5 separate regions of the Homo sapiens genome follow, and regions 1, 2, 4 and 5 are each reported to be linked to region 3. Evidence: microRNA targets listed by miRTarBase, many of them from high-throughput screens and not tested one by one. Region 3 holds a microRNA gene; each other region holds the end of a gene's coding sequence.
Evidence for each region. Region 3 holds the annotated microRNA hsa-miR-5695 (ACUCCAAGAAGAAUCUAGACAG, at 3,175-3,196, shown strand). A microRNA usually pairs through its seed, bases 2 to 8, with sites in the 3' UTR of a target mRNA and lowers its output. Matches are read on the target gene's strand: a 7mer-m8 pairs with bases 2 to 8, a 7mer-A1 pairs with bases 2 to 7 and ends in A, and an 8mer does both.

Region 1: miRTarBase lists NPHP3 as a target of hsa-miR-5695. Seed matches in the 3' UTR shown: 7mer-A1 at 749-755.
Region 2: miRTarBase lists SDR16C5 as a target of hsa-miR-5695. Seed matches in the 3' UTR shown: 7mer-A1 at 4,455-4,461.
Region 4: miRTarBase lists RPL32 as a target of hsa-miR-5695. Seed matches in the 3' UTR shown: 7mer-A1 at 2,412-2,418 and 7mer-A1 at 2,991-2,997.
Region 5: miRTarBase lists LGSN as a target of hsa-miR-5695. The part of its 3' UTR that is shown has no 7-base or 8-base seed match.

The regions. Positions count from the first base shown.
Region 1 is chr3:132,676,794-132,682,238 of GRCh38, reverse strand. NPHP3 (nephrocystin 3) reads left to right here. Exons shown (of 27, transcript NM_153240.5): 27 at 149-1,630. The coding sequence ends at 329. UBA5 (ubiquitin like modifier activating enzyme 5) reads right to left here. Exons shown (of 12, transcript NM_024818.6): 12 at 2,445-5,445. NPHP3-ACAD11 (NPHP3-ACAD11 readthrough (NMD candidate)) reads left to right here. Exons shown (of 45, transcript NR_037804.1): 26 at 149-325. Among named protein-coding and RNA genes, the nearest start is that of UBA5, 19 kb to the right of the region's middle.
Region 2 is chr8:56,296,060-56,302,735 of GRCh38, forward strand. It overlaps SDR16C5 (short chain dehydrogenase/reductase family 16C member 5), which reads right to left. Exons shown (of 7, transcript NM_138969.4): 7 at 3,946-5,514. The coding sequence ends at 5,421. Among named protein-coding and RNA genes, the nearest start is that of SDR16C5, 21 kb to the right of the region's middle. RefSeq lists an enhancer at 1-321.
Region 3 is chr19:12,917,199-12,923,749 of GRCh38, forward strand. MIR5695 (microRNA 5695) reads left to right here and starts at 3,122; the gene lies at 3,122-3,206. SYCE2 (synaptonemal complex central element protein 2) reads right to left here and starts at 2,095. Exons shown (of 6, transcript NM_001105578.2): 1 at 2,045-2,095; 2 at 1,024-1,139. The coding sequence starts at 2,059. It overlaps FARSA (phenylalanyl-tRNA synthetase subunit alpha), which reads right to left. Exons shown (of 13, transcript NM_004461.3): 13 at 5,281-5,688. The coding sequence ends at 5,550. RefSeq lists an enhancer at 1,775-1,914.
Region 4 is chr3:12,831,147-12,837,822 of GRCh38, reverse strand. It overlaps RPL32 (ribosomal protein L32), which reads left to right. Exons shown (of 4, transcript NM_000994.4): 4 at 1,600-3,338. The coding sequence ends at 1,729. It overlaps CAND2 (cullin associated and neddylation dissociated 2 (putative)), which reads right to left. Exons shown (of 15, transcript NM_001162499.2): 14 at 6,251-6,358; 15 at 3,020-4,068. The coding sequence ends at 3,841. Among named protein-coding and RNA genes, the nearest start is that of SNORA7A, 6.0 kb to the left of the region's middle.
Region 5 is chr6:63,274,801-63,281,476 of GRCh38, forward strand. It overlaps LGSN (lengsin, lens protein with glutamine synthetase domain), which reads right to left. Exons shown (of 4, transcript NM_016571.3): 4 at 1,151-6,420. The coding sequence ends at 5,221. Among named protein-coding and RNA genes, the nearest start is that of LGSN, 42 kb to the right of the region's middle.

The DNA.
Region 1 (5,445 bases), not on the chromosome of region 3:
TTTTACTGGTCTGCTTGAGTGAATACACTGGAAAAAGAGGGGAAATGGGCAAATATTTACAGCTTCTTTTTCTGTATCCCATAAGGTCATTTTGAATTGGTAAGAGGTTATATTCTCATTTTAAGAGTTTTTGTTTTCTCTCTCAAAGCTATGAAGGAGGAGATTTTGAAAAAGCTGCTGAATTATACAAAAGGGCAATGGAAATAAAAGAAGCAGAAACATCACTCTTGGGTGGAAAAGCTCCTTCACGCCATTCATCAAGTGGAGACACGTTTAGCTTAAAAACAGCTCATTCTCCTAATGTTTTCCTTCAGCAAGGACAAAGGTAATAGCAGCAGTTAGAATTCTTTGCAAATGTACCTTAAGACAAAATAATTAAACATTTGGAACATTTGAATTTGAAACTTTAAAAAAATGTTGTACGAAATTTTACTACGTGTGATTTAACTGCTATTTGTATGAAGTTGTATTGGATTACATTAAGTTGGAATTGTGATTATGTCTGTTTTAGTTGTTTAAAAGAATTTTCCTATTATATGGTATCCAAGGATGTAGACACATTAGAATTATAAGAAGACATGAGGAGCAAATCATGAAGAGCGGATTGGTCTTTGTTCAACAAGAGCTGGCAGAGTAGTTAAGACAAGGAGTTCAAAAATTCCATGAATCTTGGCCAGGCATGGTGGCTCATGCCTGTAATCCCACCACTTTGGGAGGGTGATGCAGGAGGATCACTTGAGGCCAGGAGTTGGAGACCAGCCTGGCCAACATGGTGAAACCCTGTCTCTACTAAAAATACAAAAAAAAATTAGCTGGACCTGGTGGCGCATGCCTGTAATCCTAGCTACTCAGGAGGCTGAGGCATGAGAATCGCTTGAACTCAGCAAGTGGAGGTTGCTATGAGCTGAGATTGTGCCAGTTCATTCCACCCTGGGCAACAGGGTGAGACTCTGTCTCAAAAAAAAAAAAAAAAAAAAAAAGAATTCCATGATTCTTTTGAGCTCTCAAGAGCTACTTTAGCCTTGCCATTCCTCTTGCTTTTCAGCAGTAGTCTGGCCCAATTCTCTACCTCAAAGGAAAGTTTCAAGGATTAAAGGGTTAATGTTTATGAACGATTCAAATTGTCTTCAGTGAAACACATTAGTCACAAGAATCCCTGATTGCTGCACTTTAAAAAATTCTTTACCTTTTCCTTGAGCAGATTGGTCCAGTCCCTCTGCTTTCTGTTCTGTCTACATTGTGTATTATTTATTACTATATAGTATATGTATCTGCATAATGTCTGAAGTCATTAATGCAGTAACAGGTCAAGCTCTTTAGCATTCTTTGACTTTTCCCAAAATATAGATATGACATTCTCCTTTATCTTCCTTCTTAGATGGCCTAAATCTGTCTCTTCATTTACCTCAAACTCAAATTAGTATGCCATTTTCATACTGAAAATTAAATATTTTTATGGATTTTATAAATATTGCAACATTTTAGATATTGTTTTGGACCATTTGTGTATTTATATATAATAAAATCATCAATTTAATACTTGTAAGATCCTAACATGTATTGATTGTAAAAGTGAAATATGTAATAGCCACACTTCACTGTTTTAAAATAAAAGTGCAATTTCAAGTTCTTTTTTCCCCACTCTAGTTTATACAAGAGGGCTGTTTTGCATGATTTTTAAAGAAATACGTTGAACTTTTTTTAGAACTTGAAATGGACCGGGCGCGGTGTCTCATGCCTGTAATCCTAGCACTTTGAGAGGCCAAGGCGGGAGGATCATAAGGTCAGGAGATCAAGACCATCCTGGCTAACACGGTGAAACCCCATCTCTATTGAAAAATACAAAAAACTAGCTGGGCGTGGTGGCACACACCTGTAGTCCCAGCTACTTGGGAAGCTGAGGCAGGAGAATCACTCGAACCCGGGAGGCGGAGGTTGCAGTGAGCCGAGATCACACCACTGCACTCCAGCCCGAGTGAGACTCCATCTCAAAACAAAACAAAACAAAAAACAAAACCTTGAAATGTTGTCAATACTTGCTGCTCAGTAGTTTGCTCAGCTTAAGGTTTTGGTTAATGTTCTCTTAAGGCCGAGTTACTATTCACAGGGTAGTCCACAAATCATTGTCACCACCACCTGGCAGCTTATTAAAAATTCAGACTCTCAGGCCTCTCCCCAAACCTACTGAATGAATCTGTATTTTAGCTAGATCCCAAGGTGACTAATGTGCACATAAGTATGAGAAGCAGTGGTATAACTCTACGGCACTATAGTGGTAATTTAAAAAGAAATGAGGCAGTATATAATGAGCATCCTTCTTCCTCCTTTGGGAGTAGTTCAAGAGGGAAAAATAGAAGATAAACTATAACCATAACATACCTTTCTGGGTTTGGCAGCTGTGAAAGACACAAAGTAATTGAAAACACAAATATACCAGACAATGATTTTAGAATTAAGCTGTTAGAGCTTAGAATTTGATTATTTAGTGGTACAAGTCATTTAATACATAGCAAGTAATGTGTTCGGTTTATCACCTTAGAAAAACTGCTTTAGAAAATAATGAGACCAGTACTCTAGAAGAACCCTGATAAAAGGAAAAACTACCTTAAGAATATTATTTATTCTTTGTACCTCCAAAATTTGTGCCTGAATAACTGTAGTTGGAGACATGATCACTCAAAATTATGTATTCCAAAAGAATGAAATTTAAACATAATAAACTATTTTGATATTACTATTTATTTTACTACCAACCCAAACGTTCTCATGTAGAATGCATACTTAAGAAGATAAAAATAGCTGGAACATCTTTGTGTATGCATATTTGAAGTTCTCAAATAGGAATATTTTCTTCACATTAATATGCACTTTCACAATGAAAAAGGTAGCTTTCAGACAACTCAATTATAAATCTGAATTGTTAGAGTACTTATTCTAGTTATAATTTTTATTCATCAATACCTTTTTTTTTGAGACAGAGTCTCACTCTGTTTTCCAGACTGGAGTGCAGTGGCACTATCTCAGCTCACTGCAACCTCTGCCTCCCAGGTTCAAGCGATTCTCCTGCCTCAGCCTCCTAAGTAGCTGGGATTACAGTCACGCACCACCACGCCCGGCTAATTTTTGTATTTTTAGTAGAGACGGGGTTTTGCCATGTTGGTCAGGCTGGTCTCGAACTCCTGACCTCTTGACCTACCCACCTCAGCCTCCCAAAGTGCTGAGATTACAGAAAGGGAAATATGAAAAAAATGTGATGCAGGGGTCAAAGCTTCCTTTAGTAAATATTCTTGGCTGGGCGTGGTGGCTCACACCTATAATCCCAGCACTTTGGGAGGCCAAGATGGGTGGATCACCTGAGGTCAGGAGTTCAAGACCAGCCTGGCCAACATGGTGAAACCTCGCCTCTACTAAAAATACAAAAATTAGCCATGCGTGGTGGCGGGCACCTGTAATCCCAGCTACTTGGGAGGCTGAGGCAGGAGAATCGCTTGAACCTGGGAGGCGGAGGATGTGGTGAGCTGAGATCGTGCCACTGCACTCCAGCCTGGGCAACAGAGTGAGACTCTGTCTCAAAAAAATAAATAAATAAATAAATATTCTTAAGTGGCCATTACGTTTTTTGTGTTGTTCAGTGTACGTATCCAGGGAGTATTTTTATGAGAAGAAACTAGTAATACTTATTTTCTCTACAACATTTAAGTAGAACCATAACTAACTTCCCATTAACAATAAGACAGGAATTAAAGTTGAATATGTTGTTTTACTATCATTTAGAGTCTCTGTGCTAAGCCAATTCTGGGACTGCTTTTCCATCTTTCACATTAGAATCAATAGTGTTTACAAATCTGGACAAATGCTATGAGTTTAGTAATACTAAATTCAATGATGATTAATTTTTCGTAATCAGCTGCCTTCTTATGCAAGTTTTCATGGCATACAGACTGTCAAGAGAGTATTCTAGGATAGCAACATCTCTATTACCAGATTTTTTTTCTGGTTAAATAATCCAATTGTTTTTAATGAAAGATATTAGACAAAAAAAGTTAGGTCAATTAGGTAACATTTGGTGCAGTGTAAGACACAGGCAGTGATGCAATGCCAACTTGAGAGCAGATAAAAGAAGACAGTGAATTCTAGATGTGATACTTTATCAAATTGTAAAATTTTATAAAACCTTACTAAATTGATATGCAAGAATTTCCAAAGGAAATTTATTTTTGAAAAACTGCATTTCATTTTTTAAATTCAAAACATCTCTCATACTAGAAAAGCTATTTTACAGTTCAATAAGCTAAATTTTTAAAAAATGATAGAAGACTCACCAAGGCAACATAAATAAGTTTCCAGGCTAAAAAAACTATCCTTCTGCTTTCCAGACTTTACTATAAACATAAGAATCACAGTATAATCCTAGCATCTCAAAACTAATATATTGAAAACATTTGGTAGTTGAGACTTTCTGAAATCAGTTTTTTGAACTTTATTTTACAATCAGGGATGTACTTTTAATTTTTTACAACATTTTCTCCCTAGAGATATAATTTAGATATTCCTATCTTCAAAGTAAAAATCAAAATAGGAAATAAGCATAGAAACAGCCTATTGGCAGTGGTTACACCTGCATGGTATTTATGAGTCTCCAAACTATTGGAAATTTATTTCAACCAAGGTTCTCTTAAGTCTTCATTACTTGGGTGTAACTCGAGAGAAAACTAATTTATATCAATTTACAGTTTAGTGGTCATGATCAGGGGAAAGTGATACTCTTCCACTGACTACAAGTCATTGCAGAGGCAGTTTAGAACTTTTCCTTTATTCCTAATATACAGGACAAACCTTGCCGACATCTCACTACCTCGAAAATCAAATTTAAATGAAGTATCCAGGAGTAGCCTAAAGAATGAGTGTAATCTGGATGGATTTTAGTCTAAATTTATGCCTTGCTCTTCAGTAAAGTATAGTAACTCCAGATATATGTTCCACAGATGCAATAATTTCTGTTCCTTGTTCGGTGCAGAATATAATTTATACTTCCTGAAATCAACTTTGTCTATTCATGAAAATAGCTGCTTTTTATTTGCCTTTGTCTCACTTTGAATATATATGATCCACAGGTTACAGACTTTTCCAATAACTACATTTCAACTTGTACTTCATCAGCAAACATTTGAGAGGATGTTATTTCATAGGTTAACTATTTTGAATTCATTGTTGATCAAGTTAGTAGTAGTGGGCAATTTTCTTATAGAAAGCAATTCCAAACATAATGAGCAGATGCTTGCCAGCTCTAATCAATAAGCTGTATGCCTTGTCCTTCTCCCTGTATCTGAGGATCATATACTACTTTATTGTCCATGTCCTCATGCAACAGACACAAGGGATTACTGGAAAGAAAAAGATTACAGGATCAGATTTGTCCTTCCCCCACTCCAAAAGGCCAAAACA
Region 2 (6,676 bases), not on the chromosome of region 3:
GCCCTCTCTACCTGCAAGCCAAGTTGACTGAGAGCATGGCAATTTGGAGCCTTGGAGGGTTGAAACAGCCAACACCCTCTGTGCCTGATGGGAGGCCCTCAGAAGTGTAGATCCCAGACAATGGCCTTAGGGGAAGAAACATTGTGGTCCTAAGTTTTTCCCCAGCACCTTCCGTTAAGGGTTGACTGCCAGACCTGGGATCCAGTCAGCAATAAACATCACACCATGGGTATGGCCTTTCCCCTAAACCTTTCCCACCACATCTACCAGAGACAGAGGCAGGCATGGGCAGAGCACAGGTGCCAGTTACAGAGCAGCTTTCAGTCTTAAAGCTTCGTCCAAGCAAGATCTGTGGCAGTGGTTTAAACGGCCAATGAGGAGGATGAAATAAATACACAAGAAGCCAATTGAGTTATTGGAGCCAATTGTATTGCAAAAGTGAAGACAGCCTTGACACAGGCTATAATTCTTCTTCCCTCTAGTTTGAGACTATACAATCTGTGTAGCCTTGAGAGAGAATATAGTCTGCAAAGCTCACCTCAGCTGCGGGGAAAATGTTAAACAACAAAGAACCCTCTAGGTTCATGGAGGACAATGGACAAGATGGCATATCACAGAGTAGAAGCAAGCAGGGCTGCCTGAGAAAGGAAGCACTTGTGATTCCTGCCCAGCAAAATCCCATCACTGTGGACCATCACTGTGTTTCTTCTGTCCCCTTCCTGGTTTTGAATGGAAAGTCTCCTGGCCTCCCCTCATTCTGCTCCCCTCCCTCTTCCCCTTCTCTTCTCCCCTTCCCTCGAATCCCCTCCTCTCTTCTCGTCTTTTCCTTCCCCTCCCCTTCTCTTTTCTTTTTTTTACCCCTCTCCTCCCCTTCCTTCCCCTCCCTTTCTTTCTCCTCCTGTCTCCTTTCCTTCTCATTTCTGACTCTAATCATGGCTATTCTGCTTCTCTGCACCACTGTATGTAGAGTGAGATGGGGGTGAATCACTCACCTTGTCTCTTCTTGGTCATTCGGCCATGAAGAGTCATATTAGGATCTGATGGAGGGTGCTGCCTAGCGCCATAGGTTCTGGACTTCTAGTGACCTGCAGTGACTGGGCAGATCTTTACAGTGGAGAGGGTCTGTGCGTTCTGTCTGATTAGAAGAGAATACATAAATGTATGGGGAAGACTGTGGCAGAAACTTTTAAGTTAACATCCAACATCTGGATCTTATCTTTTCCCACAGTAATAGGATCCCTGGTGTTTAGGTGGCTCAGGGTGGTGCAAAATAAAGACCATATTTCTCAGCATCATTTGAGGGCTGCTTTAGTCATGTGATGAAATCTGACCAATAGGATGTGGTGTTTTGGGGTGTGCAATGCCCACAGATTGTACTGAAAGAGTGCAGGGGTGCCTTATGCCCTCTGGGGTCTTGCGGCCTGGAATGTGAGCATAATGGCTGAGGTTTCAGTGGTCACTGTAGATCACACTTATCACTGATGTTCAGGACGTGAGCCTGCATAGCCGAGCAAATGCACAGAAGGAGCTTGGGTCCCTGACTCTGTGGAGCACCCTACCAACCCTTAATGGCTACCCCAAGGCTTTTAAACATAACGGAGAAACACACTTCTACTTTCTTCAAGCCCTTATTACACTGGAGTTTTCAGTTACCCCAGCTGAATGAAATCCTCGCTGACAGAGCAAGCAAGCCTTGATGCAGAAAGAGTGGCCAGGAAACTATTGCCCCGGCAGGGAACTGACAATGAGAGTCTGAACTAAGGCAATAGCAGTTGGGATGGTGAGGACAACATGCTAATGAGGTCGAGAGGTAGCACAGACTGGATTTAATTACTGATTGGACAAGGAGATGACAGATAAAGTAAAAGTAGAGCATTATACCTGGGTTTCTAGCTTGGATGGTGTGGAGGAGCAATGGGCATGGTTAAGAGTCCTCAGAAGGAATCTACAAAGTCAAAGAAATCCAAAGATAGAAACTTGAAGAACACAAACAATTTAAGGAGTGAACAGCAGAAGAGACCAGTAGGTAGAAGTGTCACCAGGACCACCTGCTTGAGAGATTAATAATGTCAGTCATGAGAAATAAAATCTCATGAGGAATGAAATCCCTGGGGATCTTTCCATAAAAATCACCATGACATGGTAGACATGAAAGCTGGGGGGCTTAGAAGCCAATGTGAATCAAAGAGATGGACAAATTACCTGAGGCTGCATTTTACTTATTTTTTATTTAATATTTTAGAGACAAAGTCTCACTCTGTCACCCAGGTTGGGGTACAGTGGTGTGATCATAGCTCACTGCTGCCTTGAACTCCTGGGCTCCAGCAATCCTCCTACCTTAGCCTCCTGAGTAGCTGGGACTACAAGTGTGCACCACCACATCGGGCTAATATTTAAATTTTTTGTAGAAACAGGGTCTTGCTGTGTTGCCCAGGCTGGTCTTGAATTCCTGGCCTCAAGCTATCCTCCTGCCTTGGCCTCCCAAAGAGCTGGAATTACATATGTGAGCCCTGCTCCCGGTCCAACATGGTTCATGAGCCTGGAATGTTGAGGGTGCCTAGCACCAGACATGTTCGTCCCAGAGCTGCTCTGCATGGGACGTCTGGCTTCACAACAGTTTTTGTCTGGTGGCCCAGATTTTCAGTCATATTTTTCTCAAGTGCTGACTCTGGCAGGTTGGAATTAATTTCTTTCAGGCATTCTCAATTCACTCTGCCTCCAAGATTCAGAATTATTTCATCTGATGAACTGTGACCATCTCAGCATGAGGACTCTAAGGAGTGTAAATGTCATTTGTGGTCTGGTTTTTTTCTATCTTGGCATCTGTTATGGACTGCATGTCTGTGTTACCCCAAAATTCATATGGGATGATGTGGGACTTTGGGAGGTAATTAGGGTTAGATGAGGTCAAGAAAGTAGAGCCCTTATGATGGAACTGGTGTCCTTAGAAGAAGAAATATGTCTTTCTCTCTCTCTCTCCACACACACACACCAAGGAAAGACTCTGTGAAGACACAGCAAGAAGTTCTCCACAAGCCAGCAAGAGAGCCCTCACCAGAAAATGAACCAGCTGGCACCTTGATCTTGAACTCCTAGCTTCCAGAATTCTGAGAATTAAATTTCTGTTGTTTAAAGTACTCAATTTGTGGCATTTTGTTATGGTGGCCCTAATGGACTAAGACAGCATCACAATGTAAAACCACACACACACACACACACACACACACACACACACACGGCATGACACACATTTTTACCCAGCAAAACTCCATCTTACACCAAGAATTCTTCTCTGCTTTGGAGCAGCTCAGTGAGTACAAGATGCTGGAAGATGCGCCCTGCAGGGCAGAATGCCCAGGCATGGGGCACAGCCCTGGCCCTGTGTCCTTCTGTTTCCTCAGCCTGGCTTAGGTGTTGGGCTCTTGGTCATGGCTTCATTAGGACTAAATTTTGATGGAAACGGGCATGACACACATGCCAAGAGCACTCCTTGCTCCCCAGGGCATTAAATCACCTTGTTATTTAGTGCCCTCTAGAATCCACTAATTTACATGTGGTCTCTTCTCATAGAAGCATCTCAAGTAAATCTGAATTTGTTTAGACAATTTTATGGGTATTTTAAAACCACAATTGAATTTCAGGCCTTTGTCGCAGTCCAGCCAAGATGCACTCCAATTAGAAATAATTGCTATTAATGCTGTTATGATGTGGAGGATGCCTGCAGTGCTCCTGGACCTTTGTTGTACTGAATCCCCGAAGAGTCTGAGCTTTATTCTTTAACTAAATAGACAGGACCCTAGAAGATACGCTTCTGGAATTGTAATATTACAGCAATATTGTGCTTCTCTCTTAATTAACCTTGTTAACCAAGGATTTGGAACATCAGTGGGTGACTCTGAGAGGGCCTTTGATCCTCTCAGTATACATCTACAGTGGAATAAGATGTCACTGTGAAATAAAACGCCTTTATTCTTTGGCATACACCAAATACCTTCATCATTCTTTGAGTAATGATTGACAGTCTCGTTTAATGAAATAATGTTTGTCAAATACTTAATTTGCTGCCGGGCACAGTAAATGTTAGTTATGATTGTTATAATATTATCATAAAACAAGTTTTTTTTTTTTAAGGTTTTCTGAATGGAAAGGAAATACAGATCAGGGCTGTCATGTTCGTGCAGGCCACTCAAGGTAAACCATAGTGGATTCCAGAGTTTACACCCCCTGAGACTGCTGCCCCTATGACAGCATTTTACCCCCAAGATAGTCAAATTCTCAATTCTTTAGACTTTTACCGGGTCTCCCAAGGTACCGCTCATCCCCTCCTTGCTCCCCACAAGAGGGAAGAGACAAAGGCTGCTGTTTCTCTTGCAAGGCTGCCCCCACCAGCCTGAGAAGGAGTTCCAGGGATATGGTAATTAACATATTTTTCTTAATCTTGCTTTTATAGTTAATCTCCAAAGCATGAAAGCACTTTGCCAGTTGATTAAACTGTAAGAATACAATAGATCCAAAGTGAGGGCAGCACTGATGAATATAAATGCATAAAATTGCCCATTCTGCAGGAAAATGCCTCAACCTGAATCCCAACTTGAAATACTAAGTTGAACACTTAACTTTAATTGCACGAATATATTTTTTGGATCAATAGATAGCAAAAAACCTAACTTGGTATAATTTCATCTTCAAAGTAAGAAGCAACCACTCTTTGATCTCTTCTAGGAAACAAAAGTGATTCTATTTAAGAGTTTGGTCTAGGATCACTGCCTATGAGGGGGCTTCAGGGAATGCCCGGTAAGGCTCTTGGGCACAATAGTGCTGGATGGGCCTTTAGCCAGACTGCCACTCGGTCTGCGTATCCAGGGCATTCAGAAGCATTTGTGTAGCTGTTTTGGAAAGAAGGGCACTGGAGGCGGGCCTTTTCTACATTAGGTGGTACAGGTTCAAAATGGCCAGAGAGGATAGCAAGGGGGTAGAAATCCAGAGCTGTGTGTCCTCTGGAGAGAGGGCATTCTGGCTGGATATCCACATGTCCTCTTCGCCCCTCAGCCCTGCTCCCCAAGGCAGGTCAACCACAGCCGCTGGCTCCATTTGAGCCACCTCCCCAACGACCAAAGCTCAGGGCAGCTCATGGCCATGGCTTATCACTTTCTTACATCTGTGGTAATGGAAATGACAAAAATGGGCTGTCTTTATTTTTGGAAAAAAAAAGAAAAAGAAAAAACCAAAACTCAACCAAATAGGTGATAGCAACATTATTTTCAAACACATTGATTGAAAATTCTAGTCCAGATAACAGAATAGGAGTGGTACTTGTGGTCTCCAGATATATTCCACTGTCAGACAAAAATACTTTTCTTCATTGAAGTACGCATTATGTAACACTGTGTATCAGATGACCTTAGCCATAGAGTTGGTCTTTAGAGCTTCTTCTTTTGGTCAACAAAGCCATCCATTGCATGAAGGATGCCCAAATAGTCAGCTATAAGCAGTCCTGTCTTGAGGGGCAAAAAGCTAAAGAGAACACAAGAATAAACTTTCTTTATTATCATTCATGAAAGCCTCTTTACCACCTCTACTGAAAAGCAGTGTCACCTCTTGTGGCAGATGAAGTCACTCACTCATGCACACACTATGCAGCCTGAGTGCTACCCGCCTCAGGGTCACTGGGCCTTGTTCACTATATCCGGGGACACTCGCCCAGGGCCTTGACAGGTCTTCTGGCTTAAGTTATTCAATTCACTTCTCATTTCGGTTTCCAAAGCATCACTCCACTGTACAATGACACAGAGGAAGCAGTGAAGTCTTGTCCTGTAGGCATGCGCTTTGGGGGCAGATGAGCCTGGCTGGAATCCTAGCTCTGTCATTTGCAGTGCCGCCTTAGGCAATCGACTCAGCTCATAGACCTCAGTTTCCTCAACTGTAAAATGAGGTCATCAGTCTGCCTTTCTGGCGCTACTGTGAGGATGAGATGCAATAGCTCCTCAAACCTTGGGCAAGACCCAACTAACACTGTCCATCTTCTCCATCCACACCTGCCCCTCTGCAAAGCCATATACATGCATGATCATCATCCCAACAGAGCACTCTGCTCCACTGGCCTTTGCATTCAATACTGCAGAGCAAGGAAACAAAGCAGGCACGGGAAACCTGAGACTCATCCTAAGGTGGGGGTAAAGGAAAGGACCCCATGCTCCTTGTTCCCCTGTTTGGGCACCCCAAGATCTCCAGGTGGTTCATCCCTCCCACAGCTTCAAGTCTCTGGTCAAGTACTACCTTCTTTATGAGACTCCCTCCACCCACCAAACACCATTCTTAAAATTAATTCTCACCGGCCGGGCGCAGTGGCTCACGCCTGTAATCCCAGCACTTTAGGAGGCTGAGGTGGGCAGATCACAAGGTCAGGAGTTTGAGACCAGCCTGGCCAACATGGTGAAACCCCATCTCTACTAAAAATACAAAAATTAGCCAGGTGTGGTGGTGCACGCCTGTAATCCTAGCTACTCAGGAGGCTGAGGCAGGAGAATCACTTGAACCCGGGAGGTGGGGGTTGCAGTGAGGCATGATTGCACCACTGCACTCCAGCCTAGGCAACAGAGCAAGAGTCCATCTCAAAAAAAAAAAAAAAAATTAAATCTCACTTAGATGTGGTGGCTCATGCTTGTAATCCCAGTGC
Region 3 (6,551 bases):
GGATTACAAGTGTCTGTCACCATGCCTGGCTAATTTTTGTAGACACAGGGTTTCACCATATTGGCCAGGCTAGTCTCAAACTCCTGACCTCATGATCTGCCTGCCTTGGCCTCCCAAAGTGCTGGGATTACAGGCGTAAGCCACCGTGCCCGGCCTACTAAATTTTTCTTTTTTCTTTTTTTTGAGACGGAGTCTCACTCTGTCACCAGGCTGGCATGCAGTGGCATGATCTCGGCTCACTACAACCTCTGCCTCTGGGGTTCAAGCGATTCTCCTGCCTTAGCCTCCCGAGTAGCTGGGACTACAGGCGTGCACCACAACACCCAGCTAACTTCTGTATTTTTAGTAGAGACGGGGTTTCATCATGTTAGCCAGGATGGTCTCCATCTCTTGACCTTTTGATCCACCCCCCTCGGCCTCCCAAAGTGCTAGGATTACAGGCATAAGCCACCATTCCTGGCTTTTTTTTTTTTTTTTTGAGACAGCGTTTCGGTCTTTTTGCCCAGGCTGGAGTGCAATGGCGCCATCTCAGCTCACTGCAACCTCCACCTCCTGGGTTCAAGCGATTCTCCTGCCTCAGCCTCCTGAGTAGCTGGGATTACAGGCATGTGCCACTATGCCCAGCTAATTTTGTATTTTTAGTAGAGACGGGGTTTCTCCATGTTTGTCAGGCTGGTCTCAAACTCCCGACCTTAGGTGATCCACCCGCCTTGGCCTCCCAAAGTGTTGGGATTACAGGTGTGAACCACTGCACCTGGCCAATATTTTTTAATAAATTGGCCCGACATTCTGGCCCGCCTCTAGTCCCAGCCATTTCGGAGGCTGAGGTGGGAGGATCACTTGAGTCTGGGAGGTGGAGGTTGCAGTGAGCCGTGATCATGCCACTGCGTGGTGACAAAGCAAGACGCTGTGTTAGGAGGGAAAAAAAAAGCAGCAGACACTGGCATAGCCTTGTGGAAGAAAAGGGTGAATGAGAGGGACCCAGGGGCCTGTGTAGACCCATAGGGCTGGGATCTTCCTCACCTAGCTGGCCCTCCACCAGCTTCCTCCTCGCAGTTCTCTTCCCACCGCGGATGCTCCTTGCTCTCCCCCAAGGGCTGCGGTTCCTGGTCTTTGCATTTCACATGGGGCACGTCCACCTGCAAGCACAGTCAGGACGGAGGCCAAGGAGGGAGGATGAGGAGTGAACAGATCGCCCTCCTGCCGACCCTTCAACCCTGGTCACCTCGATGTGCTGCTGCGGGACGGTGGGGACCCGCAGGAAAGACGGGCAGGGCTGGGGCAGGTGCCATGAGGGCAGGGGCATGGGGTGAAAGGACACTCTGTCCCTAGGGGACACCAGGACACCAGACCTAGAGGGGCCGGGTGAGGGCAGGGCTGTGGGAATGTAACTGGAGGACCTGGGCTCCTAACTGGTATGTGTGTTGGCTGGAGTCCTTCGAGAAAGGAGAAGAGGTAGGAGAAAAGAGATGAGGCCGGGCGCGGTGGCTCACGCCTGTAATCCCAGCACTTTGGGAGGCGGAGGCGGGCGGATCACGAGGTCAGGAGTGCGAGAACAGCCTGAGCAATATGGTGAAACCCCGTCTCTACTAAAAATACAAAAATTAGCTGACGTGGTGGTGCGTGCCTGTAATCCCAGCTACTCGGGAGGCTGAGGAAGGAGAATCACTTGAACCCGGGAGGCAGAGGTTGCAGTGAGCCGAGATCACGCCACTGCACTCCAGACTGGGCGACAGAGTGATACTTCGTCTCAAAAAAAAAAAAAAAAAGAAATGAAAGAAACGGGTGCGGTGCGTGGGTGTTTGTGCCTTTCTCTACTCCGTTCCGGCCACGCGCCATGTGTGGAAATCAGACCCGTCAGTGCGTCAGTCAGGGCCGGGTTCAGTCAGTCAGGAAATTTGAGGCCAGGCCTGATGAGAGGGAGCCCCAATGGCAAAGGACAAGCGGCCGGGCTCGGGTCCGCTGGAGATGGCTGGGATCGCAGCCGTTCCCTGCCTATCTGTCCGCCCGCCCCACGCGCGAGAAGGAAACAAGCGCCGCGTACTCCCTGTCGCTCCATTCCGTATTTTCCCGCCTTCAAGCTCGCACCCTCTGCGCATGCGCCGACCCCGCCCCTGGCCAGCTGCGCTCCCGCGGACGAGTGTGTTGTGACGCGTGCTCCCGGCCCCGCCCTCTTTGAGAACTTGCGCGGCCAACTGGGCGGGGCCGACCGTTAAGCAGCAGTTTCGCGGTCCGCGGGCTGCGCGCGCAGTCGGCGCCCCTTGGGAGCAGGACGGCGCGCTCTGGGTGCGCTTGTGTGCCCCTGTGAGGCTCCTGGGTTCCACGGGGCGCCCAGGTTATACGGATCTCAGAGTCCTGTATTTATTCGGTGCTTCTAACTTCATCCACTCTGCCTTGGAAAATATACTCCATAACAATTTTTTTTTTTTTTTGAGACAAGATCTTGGTCTGTCGCCCAGGCTGGAGTGCAGTGGTGCGATCACAGCTCACTGTAGCCTCGACCTCCCAGGTTCAAGCGATCCTCCTGCCTCGGCCTCCTGAGTAGCAGTGTCATTCACCAGGCCCTTCTAATTTAAAAATATTTTTCTGGCCGGGCGCGGTGGCTCACGCCTGTAATCCCAGCACTTTGGGAGGCCGAGGCGGGTGGATCACCTGAGGTCATGAGTTCGAGACCAGCCTAGCCAACATGGTGAAACTGTCTCTACTAAAAATACAAAAAATAGCCGGGCGTGGTGGCGGGCGCCTATAGTCCCAGCTACTCGGGAGGCTGGGGCAGGAGAATTGCTTAAACCCAGGACGCAGAGGTTGCAGTGAGCTGAGATCATGCCACTGCACTCCAGCCGGGGTGACAGAGTAAAGCTCCGTCTCAAAAAAAAAAAAAAGATTGTATGTATATATACACACACACACACACACACACACACACATAATTATATTTTTTTTTCCTGTAGAAATGAGATCTCACTGTGCTGAGCCCAGGCTGATCCCCAACTCCTGGGCTCAAGCCGTCCTCCCGTCTTGGTCTCCCAAAGTGCTGTCTCAAAAAAAGAAGAAATTATCTGATCTACCCTATTGACTGTAGGTCATAAGACCCCCGTTTCAAAGAAGTTTCTGCCCCACACAAGGCCTATCTATCTAGATTCTTCTTGGCCTCTCTGAGCATGCATTCCTGAGACTCCAAGAAGAATCTAGACAGATAGGCCTTGCTGGGTTTCCCCACTCAGCCTATTAGTATTAGACGACCCCCCCGGCTTTTTTTTTTTTTTTTTTTTTTTGTCTTGCTCTGTTGTCCAGGCAACACTGGAGTGCAGTGGCAAGATCTCAACTCGCTGCAACCTTGGCCTCCCAGGTTCAAGCGATTCTCAGCCAACCAAGTAGCTGGGATTACAGATGCACCATGCCCAGCTAATTTTTGTATTTTTAGTAGAGATGGGGTTTTTCCATGTTGCTCAGGCTGGTCTCAAACTCCTGGCCTCAAGTGATCCACCCGCCTCAGCCTCCCAAAGTGTCAGGATTACAAGTATGAACCACGACAAACCCTTTTTGTCCAATCAAATTTCTACCTGGGTGTTCAAACTTTGCTGAACCTAAGCATAAGACACTTTTCATTAATCAGGCATGGTGGCGGGCACCTGTAATCCCAGCTGCTTGGGAAGCTGAGGCTGCTGTGAGCCAAGATCGCCCCTACACTCCAGCCCAGGGAACAGAGCCAGACTCCGTCTCAAAACAAAACAAAACAAAAACACAGTTTCCCCTGTATCTCTGGATCTTCATTCTGAAGGCTTGTCAGGTAACACTATGATCAAATACATTCGTATTCCTTTTCTCTTATTAATCTGCCTTTTCTCAGTAATTTTTAGTGAAACTTCAGAGGGCAATAAGGAAGCTTTCTCTTCACCCCTACACAGCCAAAGTTCAGATTTGATGGAAATGGCAAGATTCCAGGGTACTTGTGTTTATTTAGACACATAAATATGTATTTAACGACAGGGTCTCACTCTGTTGCCCAGGCTGGAGTGCAGTGGTGTAATCACGGCTCATTGCAGCCTCGACCTCCCAGGCTCAAGTGATCAACCTCAGTCTCTGGAGTACCTGGGATTACAGGCATGAGCCACTATGCTGAGCTAATTTTTGTTTTCTGTTTTTGGGGGACAGGTCTCACTCTGTGGCCCAGACTGGAGTGCAGTGGTGTGATCTCAGCTCCCTACAACCTCCACCTCCTGGGTTCAAGTGATTCTCCCACCTCAGCCTCCCAGATAGCTGGGACTACAGGTGCCTGCCATCATGCCTGCTAATTTTTGTTTTTTGTTTTTTTTTTTGGAACAGAGTCTTCTTCTGTCACCCAGGCTGTAGTGCAGTGGCACAATCTTGGCTCACTGCAACCTCCACCTCCTGGTTCAAACGATTCTCGTGCCTCAGCCTCCCGGGTAGCTGGGACTACAGGTGCTCACCACCACGCCCAGCTTTTTTTTTGTATTTTTAGTAGAGACGGGTTTTCACCACGTTGGCCAGGCTGCTCTCGAACTCCTGACCTCAAGTGATCTGCCTGCCTCAGCTTCCCAAAGTGTTGGAATTACAGGCGTGAGCCACCACGCCCAGCCTAATTTTTTTTTTTTTTTTTTTGAGACGGAGTCTTGCTCTATTGCCCAGGCTGGAGTGCAGTGGTGCGATCTCCGCTCACTGCAAGCTCCGCCTCCCAGGTTCACACCATTCTCCTGCCTCAGCCTCCTGAGTAGCTGGGACTACAGGCACCCGCCACCACGCCCGGCTAATTTTTTGTATTTTTAGTAGACAGGGTTTCACCATGTTGGCCAGGATGGTCTCAATCTCTTGACCTCATGATCCACACGCCTCAGCCTCCCAAAGTGCTGGGATTACAGGCATGAGCCACCGCACCCAGCCCTAATTTTTTTATTTTTAGTAGAGATGGGGTTTCACCACGTTGGCCAGGCTGCTCCTGAATTCCTGACCTCAAGTGACCCACCCACCTTGGCCTCCCAAAAGTTCTGGGATTACAGAAGTGAGCCACTGTGCCTGGCTCAGTACCCATACTTTTTTTTTTTTTTTTTGTATTTTTAGTAGAGACGGGGTTTCACCCTGTTAGCCAGGATGGTCTCGATCGCCTGGCCTCGTGACCCGCCCGCCTCAGCCTCCCAAAGTGCTGCGATTACAGACGCGGGCCACCTCGCCCAGCCCAGTACCCAGAATTTTGACCATCAAGTGGCACACTGAGCTAGGGGGACCCAACAAGACCCCTCACCCCTAAGGAAAGCCACCAGATGGGGGCAACTGCCCACTTTATTAGACAATAGGTGGCCCACAGGTCTCCTCAGGGCCCACCCTCACAGTAGACACACCACACAGGACAACAGAAGGAACCTGCTACCCAGTCCTCTGTCCCTGGGATTCTGGTCCTGGGACAGGTGGGAAAGAGGAAGGTGGGGGCTGGCCTCACAGAGGCCTCATAAATACAAGGTCACTGGCCAGGGATGCAAAGGAGCGCAGCAGCAGGGACTCGGGGAGGATGACCTGTCCTAGAGTGGCCCATGTCACGCAGCCTCCTGTGTGGGAGGGGGCCTCGGCTCGGCATCCAGGCGGCACAGGGGACTGTCATACACCATCTGCAGGTTCACCTTGTGGCCCACCAGCTCCCGGATATTGTTGATGCCATATTTGATCATCGTTGGGCTTGTGGGGGAGGGAACAGAGTTTATCATGAGGTCAGCACGTGCACCCTTCTGCTCAGATTTCCATGGCTCCCATCTTCTTCAGAGGAAAAGTTCAAGTTCTCCCCATGACCCACAGGGCCCTGCGCCAACTGCTCTATCACCTCTCACCCTCCGCCTTCAGCCACACCAGCCTCCTCACTCTTCTCCTAATACAAAAAGCACATTCCCACCTCTGGGCCTTTGAACTGACTGTGACCACTACCTGGGACACCCTTCCCCAGATACTCTCATGGTTTACCTCTTTATCTACCTCTAGATTTTGCTTAGGTGGCACTTCTTCCTCCATGATGCCTTCACTGACCACGTAGTTGCCTTAGCCCTCCCTATACCACTTACTGCCCTGGTACACACTTCTGTCTTCTTTTGCTGAGTGCATTTGTTTTTTTGAAACAGAGTCTCACTCTGTAACCTAGGGTGGAGTGCAGTGGCGTAATCTCAGCTCACTGCAACCTCCGCCTCCCAGGTTCAAGTGATTCTCATACCTCAGCCTCCTGAGTACCTAGGACTAGGACTACAGACGCACGCAACAGTGCCTGGCTAATTTTTGTAGTTTTAGTAGAGACGGGAGACAGAGTCACACTCTGTTGTCTAGACTAGAATAGAGTGCAGTGGCATGATCTTGGCTCACTGCAACCTCTGCCTCCTGGGTTCAAACGATTCTCCTGCCTCAGCCTCCTAAGTAGCTGGGATTACAGGCACCTGCTACCACGCCAGGCTAATTTTTATATTTTTAGTAGAGATGAGGTTTCGCCATGTTGGCCAGGCTGGCCTCGAACTCCTGTCCTCAGGTGATGCACCTGCTTCAGCCACCCACAGTGCTTG
Region 4 (6,676 bases), not on the chromosome of region 3:
TCACTTACTGGTAAATGAAAGCCAAAAAGCTGAATTTTCCTAAGTAAACTAGAAAGAACATGGAGTGTGTGTGACTAACTAGGATGTTTGTGTTTACGTTTACAAAGATAACTTTCACCTACAGTGGTTGTAGATACAAGTAATAAAAATGAACAAGACCAGTATTCTAACGTGGTTACCTTCCAAGATTGGAAATTTAACCAGGCGTTGAAATGCTGAAAATTTCTGTTAGAAAAGATGGGCGAAGGAATTAATGGTGGATACTGAAACCACAGTTGGCTGTATGAGTTGAACTGTAACAGGCAATACCTGTTGTATGGCCAACATGATTACTCAGTTGCAGTGCACATGTTGGCTGGTTGGCATATGCTCTGTAAGCGCAGCTTGGCAGTCTTTAAGATCCATAGAAATACTCTTTGACGTTTGATCTCTAAGTTCCATTTCTGGGCATTTGTCCTTAAGGAATGGAAAAGCAGGCAAACTAAAGCTAGTCATTGCAGCAATAACCCACTGGAAACAACTGAAAATATAATGAGAGAATTGTAGAGTGCTGGATAAAATGTTGTGGGTCCACTCAAAATGATTCGAGTGTTGTAGTGTGGAAAATGCCCAAGCCAGGGGGGACACATTTAAAATGGTGGGTACACTCTGATTGTGATTATCAAATATATAGATGGACAAGGACAGGAGGGTTTTTTGAAAAGTAAAGACAGATGAGAAGTGTAATATAACCTAAGTCTTTAAAACGTAGAAACATTTAAAAATACAATTGCTTTGAATTTGAGTGGACTCATATAAAACAAGAATTGTCTGGATTTGCTGTCTTGCTGTTAAGGCAGGGTTCTTGAAAAGAGCTGTGTGTCCACTGCCTCAATCACTCCTCACAGTCCTGCTGCTTCTCTCTTTGCTGAAAATGCTTTAGGGGTGGAATGTCTGTTCTTAACCACTGTGGGTGGCTTCATAAATCACCTCCTTACTGAAGTGTGCTTGTTAGGCCTATTGGTTATCAAATGGGGCACAGTGTAGCTGCCTCTTAAAAAGTTGTGAGGAATGAGTTAGAACTGGATCTGAAGTCCTCAGGTAATAGGCATGGCTATGACTGGGTGACTTTAAGCATTGTTGCTTCTCAACTTGCTTTGTATCCTCAGCAGTCAAACCAGGTGCTCTTGGCTCCATTCAGACTCTTGGGTTCTGCTCTTGACCATTTTGCAAAGAGTTCTGAACCTTCATGGGCAAGGTCAAGCACCCTGTGACTGGGGGAGAACCTTTGAACCTGGAGTGTGGGCCTGGGTTCGCCCCGGATCCCTGTCCATTGCTTGCTGTGGGCCTTGGTTTCTTTATCTGTAAAATGGAGGTAATGCCTGGATTACAAGGCTGCTATAAGGATGAGAGGGGACAATGAGGGTACTTTTTAATGAAAGCATTCTTGTCACCACCAGGGAACCATAGTCAGGATTTGGGGGCATGTAGGTGTCATTCCACAGCCACTTACCAAGCAGCCCTCTCTTAGCTTGGTGCTGGGACTCATTGCCTCTCCAATGGAATTTTCCAAGTGTGTTGAGGGCTGTCTTGCTCCTTACCTACTTGATTCTCTTGCAGATCTTACTGTGCCGAGATCGCTCACAATGTTTCCTCCAAGAACCGCAAAGCCATCGTGGAAAGAGCTGCCCAACTGGCCATCAGAGTCACCAACCCCAATGCCAGGCTGCGCAGTGAAGAAAATGAGTAGGCAGCTCATGTGCACGTTTTCTGTTTAAATAAATGTAAAAACTGCCATCTGGCATCTTCCTTCCTTGATTTTAAGTCTTCAGCTTCTTGGCCAACTTAGTTTGCCACAGAGATTGTTCTTTTGCTTAAGCCCCTTTGGAATCTCCCATTTGGAGGGGATTTGTAAAGGACACTCAGTCCTTGAACAGGGGAATGTGGCCTCAAGTGCACAGACTAGCCTTAGTCATCTCCAGTTGAGGCTGGGTATGAGGGGTACAGACTTGGCCCTCACACCAGGTAGGTTCTGAGACACTTGAAGAAGCTTGTGGCTCCCAAGCCACAAGTAGTCATTCTTAGCCTTGCTTTTGTAAAGTTAGGTGACAAGTTATTCCATGTGATGCTTGTGAGAATTGAGAAAATATGCATGGAAATATCCAGATGAATTTCTTACACAGATTCTTACGGGATGCCTAAATTGCATCCTGTAACTTCTGTCCAAAAAGAACAGGATGATGTACAAATTGCTCTTCCAGGTAATCCACCACGGTTAACTGGAAAAGCACTTTCAGTCTCCTATAACCCTCCCACCAGCTGCTGCTTCAGGTATAATGTTACAGCAGTTTGCCAAGGCGGGGACCTAACTGGTGACAATTGAGCCTCTTGACTGGTACTCAGAATTTAGTGACACGTGGTCCTGATTTTTTTTGGAGACGGGGTCTTGCTCTCACCCAGGCTGGGAGTGCAGTGGCACACTGACTACAGCCTTGACCTCCCCAGGCTCAGGTGATCTTCCCACCTCAGCCTTCCAAGTAGCTGGGACTACAGATGCACACCTCCAAACCTGGGTAGTTTTTGAAGTTTTTTTGTAGAGGTGGTCTAGCCATGTTGCCTAGGCTCCCGAACTCCTGAGCTCAAGCAATCCTGCTTCAGCCTCCCAAAGTACTGGGATTACAGGCATCTTCTGTAGTATATAGGTCATGAGGGATATGGGATGTGGTACTTATGAGACAGAAATGCTTACAGGATGTTTTTCTGTAACCATCCTGGTCAACTTAGCAGAAATGCTGCGCTGGGTATAATAAAGCTTTTCTACTTCTAGTCTAGACAGGAATCTTACAGATTGTCTCCTGTTCAAAACCTAGTCATAAATATTTATAATGCAAACTGGTCATTTTTGGGATTTTGTTTTTGAGACTCATTCTGTCACCCCGGCTGGAGTGCAGTGGCTTGATCTTGGCTCCCTGCAACTTCTGCCTCCTGGGTTCAGGCGATTCGATTAACAATTGGAGACGAGTCGTGCAGAGGAAAGAAGTAACTTAGAATCTAATCTTTATTAACCTGGGATATCACAGAAAATACTTGGGCCTGCCACTTGTATTTCTTTGTCCTCAATACTGAACACTAGACACATTTGAAACCTTCCTCAGAAGGAAACAAACCAACTGGTTATGCCTGGGTGGTGGCATGGAAGATGCCCATTGTTGCCCAATTTGCTAATAAGTATTTTGAAATTAGAAATGAAACATGAGGTCCAAGCCTGTCCAGTTCCCTACCCAACCCATTCCTCCTCCCTGGAAAAAAGAAACCCGTATCATCTTCCAAATTTCTGATTCATCACTGCCACTTAAAAATGAACCGTTTTGAATTTTAAAATGTGAATAACTCAAGTATCTTTTCTTTTGAGATGCCCGGCCTGAGCACTAACTTCAGGCATTGCTGAATGCAGTGAAGAAACCAGAGTGGTGTCTGCTGCCTCCTGATCTTTTACAGCTGACAGCACAGCCTATTTCTAAATACTACTAGTTTGTGAGGCAGAGACACCCTCTGAAGGAACCAGACAGACTATGGAGGGGTACAGTGTGAAGTCACTGGAAAACTTCCTCACCCTATTTCTTTGGATGACTGTCCTGAGTTAAGGAAGGGGCCCAACTGTTGGCAGCCTCACAGCTTGGGCTGGGGGCCTTTGAGTTGGGTCCCTGGAGAAGGCACTGTAAGCCCTGACCAGGAGCGACAGGGCCCCCAGTGAGATGGTGGAAGGGCAAAAGTAGAGACCTGCGATGGTGGGATGGGGAGGCCTCGGACTTGGGTGGGCTCCTTTCTCTTAAGCGAGGGCCCACCTTGGTGCTGAGGGGACTAGCTGAGCTCCATTGAGTCTGTGCTGGGGGCTGAAGCGGAATCCTTCTGGATGCTTTCAAAGAGGGCAGCAAGTTCAGGGTTGGATCTGATTTGGGAAGAGAAGTCGGCCATGATGGGGCTTTTCCCCACCTCGGGGATGGTCAGCAGGGCAGCCACTGCCCTCATTGCAGAGCGCTTCAGTTCATCTTGCTTTTCAAACTCCTGCTTCACAGAACCAGCTTTGACCTAAAGTAGGAAACAGCAGAAGCAGCCATCCTTTATTGAGCCTGGCCCACACCACTGCCTCCTCACTGGTCTTTGGCTTCCTCTCTGCCCCATCATCTTCCCCAACATAAATCCCTGCTGCGAGGTCTCCTGAGGCTTCTGTCTCACCAGCTATTTCCTAACTCCACCTCTGGGCTTTTGCACTGGCTAGTTTCCCCACAGAGGTTCTTTGCCATTCAAATCAGCTTGAGTACAGCCTGAGGGGCCTCTGAGCAGCCAATCTGAAGTGCTCGCTTTTTGTTAATTGACAGTGGCAAGTACTGTGTTCCCATACTTACCTCCTACAGACTGCAGGGATCCAGCCTATATTTGCTGTGCTTAAAACCAGCTCTTAGCACCATATGACTAGACTGAATGAATGGATCACTGCGATGGTCTTCTAGCAGCCTCCTCCCCATACTCAAGTCCCTGCCCCGCAATCAGTTTTGCAGATGCAGCCGGAGTGTAAGCACCCCAAACTACCTCCTGCAGTTTCTGTTTCCTCTTCCCCCACCATCTCCTACCTAGGCAGAGGAGCTCAGTAATTCCTCCACTGCTTATGGACTAAAGTTCAAGTTCCTTATTATGCTGGGCTCTTCCTAAAGAATTCAATGCAGTGGGTAACAGCTTGGCATTGGAGTTGCAGAGTCCTGTGTTCAAATGGCTCTGCCCCCAAGAGCTGTGACTTCAGGTAACTACATCTTTGAGCCTCATTTCCCCATCTATAAGTAAGAGCTGCCTCGTCGTAAGAGTTGCCAAGAGGATTAAACGACACAAGTCCACACTCCCTTCTCTGAAACCCCTGGAGCCAGATGTGCTTTGGAATCCAAGACATTTTGGGTTTTAGAAAGGTAATACTGTGCAGATAACATTCCCGAGGGGTTTTGTACAATACCCTGTAATCAAATACATGAATACTCTACTACATGTATGAGTAATGTGAGTAGTACAGGTGTCCCTCAGTATCCATGGGAGTTTGGTTCCAGGATCCCAGGGGATGCCAAAATCCTCAGATGATCAAGTCCCTTATATAAAAGTGGTACATTGGTAAGAATTAAAGATCATAGCCTCATGCCACTTCAAGTCAAGTTGTGTGACAAACAGGTTCCTAAAAAGCTTTTGGTTGTCAGAGCTTGGTAGATTTCAGGGTCATGGGTAAGGACTGTGGGTGTGGATTTACCCATGCTCATCCCAATGCCCAACAGACAGCATCCTCCGCGTGGCCAGATGAGTGGCTCTTGTGGAAACTCAGGGCAGAGCTTCTCTTGCCACCTCGGCTTTACTGCAAGAATGTTCTGGCACTGCAGTGCCATATATACCTCCCTCTTAAGAACTGGGACTTTTCTTGGTGCCATAGAGCTCAGAGAAAACCAGAAATGAGAGACTGTCAAAACTGGCCTGGCCCTGTAGAAGTGTTTTTTTGGATGGACTCAATAATAAGCATATGTTAAAAATGTAAACTTACAAGGCAGGTTTCTATGAATAAACTACCAATTTTAGTGTTTTATCCACAGAAGATTTCATTTTTGAAAATCACCACTTTATGGGTATCTCTCCTCTTTAAGTGCCAACCTAAAACACTGCTCTCCTTTTGGTAATGATTCCCATCCTTAAAAAACCCAAATGTATTCTTTCATTCAACAGGTATTTACTAGGTACCACGTAGGTGCGCCAGGCTCTGCTCCCAACGCCAGCTTTCCATGAGGGCTTGCACCCCACATCCCTCCTCCAGACCCTTCAGGCACTCCAGTCTAGCAGCAGCTTTGTCCTAGACCAGTCATCTGACCCAGCTTCCCAACAAGGAGGTGAGAGATTGACAGTAGGGAACCTATCAGGCTCAATGTTACATCTTTAGTATCTCCCACGAGGCTCAGCACCCAGGAAGTGTTTAATGAATGGAAGGAGAGACAGAGGTGGGTCTGAATCCAGCTCTGCAATTTACTAGCTGTGTAGCCTTGGCCAATAACAACTTCTCAAAGCCTCTGTTCCCCTGTGTATACAATGATAATAAGAGGTACTTTATAGGGCAATGACAATGATTAAATGAAGCACTTTCACAACATCACCTGCACTGCAGGAAGTGCTCAGTAAGGGTAACTGAACGACTGGCCGAGGACTCCATAGGTGCTCCAGGGCCTGGGCTAGGGCTGGGCCAGGGACTTACCTTGGCAGTGCAGGTGGCCCTTAGTGGCTCAATGAGTCGGTCCACCCTCTGCAGGACAGGTGCAGGACACAGGGTGGCCAGCCGGGCAACCATGATGAAGGTCAGCATCTGCCCAGAGGAAGGAGATGGTTCTTAGTGAAATGGTGCAGGAGCAAGAGCAGCAGCCAGCCCTGGGAAAGAGCAGAGGCCCCACAACTGAAACCTGAAGCCCAAGTTCAGACCACCGTGAAGTCCTGCCAGAGTCTCTCCCTCTCTGGGTCTGTTTCCTCAAATGGTGACACTTTCTTTGCCAACTACACTTGGATGACCCAAGGAGGATCAGAAAAGCACCAGGGAGGGAGTCGTTCTCAAGCTCAGATGCCCACCAGTCAGGCAGATGCTGGGGATGAGTGAAGGGGGCTGCTGGGGCAGCTCTGGCTGAGTGTG
Region 5 (6,676 bases), not on the chromosome of region 3:
TGCTGTGTTTACAAACCTTGAGCTAGATACAAAGTGCCGATTCGTGTATTTACAATCCCTTAGCTAGATATAAAGGTTCTCCACGTCCCCACCAGACTCAGGAGCCCAGCTGGTTTCACCCAGCGGATCCCGCACCAGGGGCTGCAGGTGGAGCTGCCTGCCAGTCCTGTGCCACCAGCGGGCACTCCTCAGCCCTTGGGTGGTCCATGGGACTGGGCGCCTTGGAGCAGGGGGCGGCCCTCGTCTGGGAGGCTGGGGCCGCACAGGAGCCCACGGAGTAGGGGGAGGCTCGGGCATGGTGGGCTGCAGATCCGGAGCCCTGCCCCGAGGCAAGGCAGCTAAGGCCAGGCAAGAAATTGAGCACAGCAACTGCTGGCCCAGGTGCTAAGCCCCTCACTACCCCGGCCGATCGGTCGCTCCGAGTGCAGGGTCCTCCGAGCCCACTCCCACCCAGAACTCGCGCTGGCCCTCAAGCACCGCGCGCAGCCCGGGTTCCCGCCCGCGCCTCTCCCTCCACACCTCCCAGCAAGCTGAGGGAGCCGGCTCCGGCCTTGGCCAGCCCGGAAAGGGACTCCCACAGTGCAGCGGCGGGCTGAAGGGCTCCTCAAGTGCCGCCAAAGTGGGAGCCCAGGCAGAGGAGGCGCCGAGAGCAAGCGAGGGCTGTGAGGACTGCCAGCACGCTGTCACCTCTCAATGGCAGCAAGAGAAATTGGGAAGGTGAGGTTCTGACTTCTACTTTCTGAGACAAGAGCCCAAAGAAGAGGGATTCCACAAATCTAAGAGAGCTATTGAAAGGTTCCACATGGCTAAAAAGCATGACAACTTCACCTTGCTCTTTTTTGTTTTTGTTTTTATTGTTGTTGTTCTTTTGATCCCCATCAAGCTAATCAAATGGTGTTTACTCAGGAGTTTCTAGAAGCAGAAAACCTGAAGAAGTTCTAATGGCAGAAATTGCAGGATCAATAAAAAAACACAAACTGTTGGACTTCTCCACTGTCTCTATTCCTCCCTCTCTCTGGGTAGGTGAATTTGTGTGTTTTATACTGGACAAGCATAGTATTGTACTATGCTAATAACATATGCATTGATTGATTAAACATTAATTGAATTCCAGAACATATGCAAGGAACAAGAAGTATTAATGCAAATGTAAGTAAGATCTGTACCTTTTATTCTGAGAATTCACATCCTAATTAGCAATTAGGAAGTATCATGTAAACCCCTAATTATAGGCAGCATGAGAAGAGCTTTAACAGGGAAGGCACTGTGCACATAGGTAATGTTTAAAGACACAAATTCTTACCCCTGTCATAGAAAACCCAAGGTTAAAGGTATTGTCCAGTCATACCTATATCATAAACATATTGGTGAGTGTATTTTGTCAAACAGGTGACTGGAGATATGTCAATAGACTGTTCTGTTTTACTGATAAGCTCAGACTTCACTGTATGCTTTCAATTTTTATTCAGATTAAAGTTTTTTGATCTTTCATTGCCTTCAAATAATCATTTCAAGCGTTGTTGTTATTCACACACTGTAAAATGAAATTTTAGATTATAGAATGTCCTTGAAAATAGAAACTTGTTACTACAATACTAATGTTTTAATTTCTAGTCTTAAAATATTATCGCTTTTAATTTACATTTCTTATGTATACTCATTTAATTACCAACTTTAAATTCAGTAATCACATTTTTCCCCTAAGCTTTGATTAGAACAATTATAGTAAATGAAAATAAGAAAGCAATTTTTGTAAAGCTATTTATAAGGCACCCTTTTCGAGCCATAAAGAAGCTTTCCAAATAGCTTTTTTCAGCATTAGGTCTACAAAAAAAATTATTTATGTTCTGCTTAAGATACACAGATCCAAAACTCTTTCATTGTCTGCTCATCTTTGTTTTGGTCTCCCCTAGTATGATGGCTCCCAGCTGAAGGCTTAGCACACAAATGGTGCTCAATAAGTGCTGCTGAATGAATGTCTGACCCTCTTAACCCAGACCAAGAAGGTAGAAGCATCAGCAGAAAGTCCTTTCAACAATAGAAAGCCTATGAACAGATGAAAGAAATAGAAAAATAGATAACTGATTTTTACATGTACCTACCCCAATTTGTCTTTGGCCCTGAACTCTGCTGGCCAATGCCTCTTTTTGGGTTGCCTTAAAGAACAAGAATATACATCAGCACACACCTAACTGAAATCTTGGTGGAAACTGCCACACCAACTTACGTTATCAACTGATTTGTAATCTATGGCTGAATATTTTCTTTGACTCACGACTGTACACTTAATACTGAAGATAATATTCCTAGTTATATAATTCCTTCACATGGCATCCTGAGTACTGTGTTTTTAAGTTATGCTAATAATGCGAAAGGGGAAAAAACGGCTTCAAACACTGTGATTATCAGACTTTTTACAGCATCTTTACTCATTATGGTAAAATGAAGTCAATGCATTAGACATGTTTCATTAAGGCCCGTGGACTATAAAGGGATATGCCACTTTATAGGGATGGGTTAGAGCCAATCCCATTTTTTGGATGTGTGGATCCCTTTGATTAACTCAGATTATCCTCTCTAGAAGTGGGAATATTGAGGAAGTCGTCTTTCACTGGTTCTTATACCTTTGTTCTTTCATCCCCAAATCCCTCAAATTCCCCACTCATATGCACACACTCACACACAAACACACATACAACACACACATGGAAAAGAGAAAATAAATTTCATTGCAACTAACAAAGAATCAAAATCATTGTGGCTTAAAGAAGATAGAAGTTTGGTTCTCTCTCAGGTAAACATCTGGATGTAGGCAAGTCAAACTGCTCTACAAAGCAGAGATTCCACCTTATTACTGTACCCTGTGGAGCAAACCTCCCTTCCCAAGGACATAATCCTAGCCACATTATCTGTAGGCCACTCAGCAGGAAGGGTGAAGGCAGCAAGAGAAAGAAAGGGCAGAGCACACAGCATCCGTCATTTAAAAAAATGTTCTAAAGTGTGGTAGGGCATGGTGGCTCATGCCTGTAATCCTAGCACTTTGGGAGGCCAAGGCAGGCTGATCACCTGAGTTCAGGAGTTCAAGACCAGACTGGCCAATATGGTGAAACCCCATCTCTACTAAAAGGCCAGGCATGGTAGCAGGCACCTGGGATCCCAGCTACTTGGGAGGCTGAGGCAGGAGAATTACTTGAACCCAGGGGGCAGAGGTTGCAGTGAGCCAAGACCCCCCCACATTGCACTTCAGCCTGGGTGACAAAGCGAGACTCCATCTCGGAAAAAAAAAAAAAATACAAGAAAAGAAAAGAAAATGTCCTAAAGAACTTATATGCAACACTTCTACTTTCACCTCTTTGCACTGAACCTAATAACATGACCACATCCAACCTTAATGAAGGCTCAGAAATATCATTTCATTTTTCATTGCTTTCAAAGAACATATTGAGGTTTTATTACTGAGAACAGAGGGGAAAATGAACAGAGGGGAATTTTCTAGCAGACAGCTAGAAAATTGGCATGAGAGTCTTCCTTATCCCTCCCATGATGTAATGTGTGGGATTTCATTCTGGAGGTTTCAGGACAGGTTCCCTTCCTTCCCCCAGCTACCCTACACTATCTTTCTCTCTACCCCATATGCATCCATGAATTTTATTCTTCTCTTTTTTTTAAGACAGTGTCTCACTCTGTCACCCAAGCTGGAGTGCAGTGGTGTGATTATGGCTCACTGCAGCCTGAAACTCCCAGGCTCAAGCGATCCTCCCTTCTCAGCCTCCCACGTAGCTGGGACTACAGGCATGTGCCACCATGCGAGGCATTTTTTTTTTTTTTTTTGTAGAAACAGGGGTCTCACTATGTGGTCCAGGCTGGACTCAAACTCCTGGCCTCAAGCAATCCTCCTGCCTTGGCCTCCCAAAGTGCTGGGAACTTTCTTCTTATGTATCCAAACACACTTCTCCTGCTCAAAGGAAAAAAGAAGGGAGTAATTAGTGAAGGATAGACTGACTTTCACTATTTAAGCTACTGAGTAATATGAATTTTAATAAGAGGATCTGAGCCAAATTCTAATCCTCTGCTTGTGCAATTGCTATCTAAATTGAGACTACAGTCAGTTTTAATTGAACATAAAATCTGCTGTTTGATCCTAAGCAGTAGAATAATGTTTCATTTGCTAGTAAGTGGATTTTGGACTTCTTCCCAAAAGCAGCTAAACTTTTGTGATAGTTACAATATTATCTCATTCAAACAAAGGCCTGGAACAGGTAATATTCTCTGGGGAGGTACCAACCTCTGTGAGCAGCAGATTCAGTAATTTGAATAACAAACTTAAACTCCAAACATAGCCCTGGCTAGCCAGGCAGTTGTTCTCACACTCCACAGAGCACTAGAGGTTTCAGAGGAACATCTAGTTTCAAAGAATGAAGCAGAGTAGACAGAGCCCACCTACCCTCACACACAAACATCTTTCTATCTATACTTTGTGTATTGAACTTCTATATGAGGCATTGTTAAAAGAAAGGCTTTAACTACTTTTAAAATCTGACCTCGTTGTTCTCAGCTCCAATTCTATTCCTTAGGGATTTGTTTCTTGAGGACATTATAACCTTGAAGTTCATAAGCTTTTCAGGAGCTAGTGGAGAAGGGTGAAAAGAGAAGAGACTTAGGGGAAAACTGCCTACCTGTCATTATATTTTGGCAAAAGTTTATTTAACTTGTTTAGAAAGACCATAATGGTGCATACAACCTGGATTCACAATATTATTTGATTAGCGAGACTATATTAGTATATTTGTCTCCCTGGAAATCATAACCTATGTGTACCATTAAAATTTTTTCTCCTTTTCTTTTTTTTCTTTTTTAGTCATTTAAATTTTGCTTTCTAATGCTTAAGTCTTTTTTTTCTTAATGTGCGAATATATTTATTGCCACCCAAAATTGGATATTCTTATCCAGGTCAACATACACATAGGAAATGACTGACAAGATCTGGTAAGTTTGCATATTATAGCTTCACCACAACTTTGTTGTTTGTTTCTGTTATCAGAATCTTCTCAGCAGTCCTACTTCATCTGTCAAATATTCCATGGACAAAAAAAAAAGTCAAAAGCATTCGTAATCTTGTTATTGTTGCTGTTGTTAATTACAAAAGTTCAGTCTTTTTGTTTTGGTAGATTAGCTTTAAGTAACAATTACATGTCTAAAGGAGTAGTTGTGAGCTCTATTCTAAATAAAATACTCTAAGAATTTATTTCTCTCTGCAGCTATTTCTTCATTCTCCAACTCATATTTCTTCATGGCAACAAAATATCGAATAAAGGTTTCTCCTAGAGCCTGTCTCAGGCATTGATCTTCTTCCAGTGCCACAAGGGCATCTTCTAGTTTTAAAGGGATCTCAGAAGGTTCCACTTGGTAAAAGTCTGTGCTCTCATCTGGACCAGCCAAGACCTCATTACTGCTATGAAGTCCATCTAAGCCGGCAGCAACAGTTGCAGCCAGCACCAAGTAAGGGTTTGCTGTTGCTGAGCCTAGTTTATTTTCTATCCGGGTGCCTTTCTCTCCATGACATTTGATATTAAATATACAGCTGTTGTCATTGTATCCCCATGTTGTAGGCACACTCTTCTTCAGGTCTTTCCTGTCCTTGGAATAACGCTTTCGGCAGCTAACAGAAGGCGCCATCAGGCAGCTGAGCGCAGCAGAGTGCTTCAAGAGTCCTGCCAACCATTTTTTCCCAGTGATCGTGAGCTGCTCAGTTCCAGAAGTGCTGCAGAACATGTTTTTCTTCCTATCGACATCCCAGAGACTATGAGACAAAATCCCTGAATCACAAAATCCAGTCTCAATGAAGAAGCTGGCAATGTAATTATATTTCCTTGCCACTTCTTTGACACCTGTTCTGAGGGTAAATGCATTATCAGCTGAGCTAATGCCAAATTCAGGCAGGAAAGAGATTTCCATCTGACCAGGCCTGGTAGAGGAGGAAAAACTCTCGACATTGGCTCCAGTGTGATACAAGCCATCAACAAGTTCCTGCATGAAGGGCTGATCATGGTTATTTAAAAATGTTAAAGCAGGAAAAGATATAATCTTTGAATTTAAAATTTCGGGCACACCAAAAATGCAAAAATCATAGATGAAAGCAGAAAGCAGGGAAAAGCCAGAGGCCTGCAGATGGCTCAGCTGCCTCTTTGCAATGTACCTTGGGGAAGTCAAAAGAGGCTCACCAGTCACAGTGAAGGTATCACATATCACTCTTGCAGTTCTGTCAGCCCATGGCAAAACTCTAAAGGTTGATAACTCTGGCATTAGGACTATGTCGCTATTAAAACATGTGGCTCTTATGTTATTCATTTCATTGTCCTTTGGATTTGGTATCACTTCAAGATAACCTCGGGGCATGCAAACACCATGGCTCACTTTCTCCTAAAGAAGGAAAAAAATGAAGAAATTAGGTTTTGAAAACAAACAAAAGGGTCGGGGGGCGGCGGGAAAGCCTTGCTAATGAAAATATATATATATATATATATATATATAATAAATATATATATATATGTTTAACACTTGTTGGTTAACACTAACTTGATATCAGATAAATGTTAAACATTTTAAAATAAAACCCCCAAAGGCAACTTTATAAACAATGCATTGTTTTAAGCCTTGAAGGCCTTATATGCTCTTA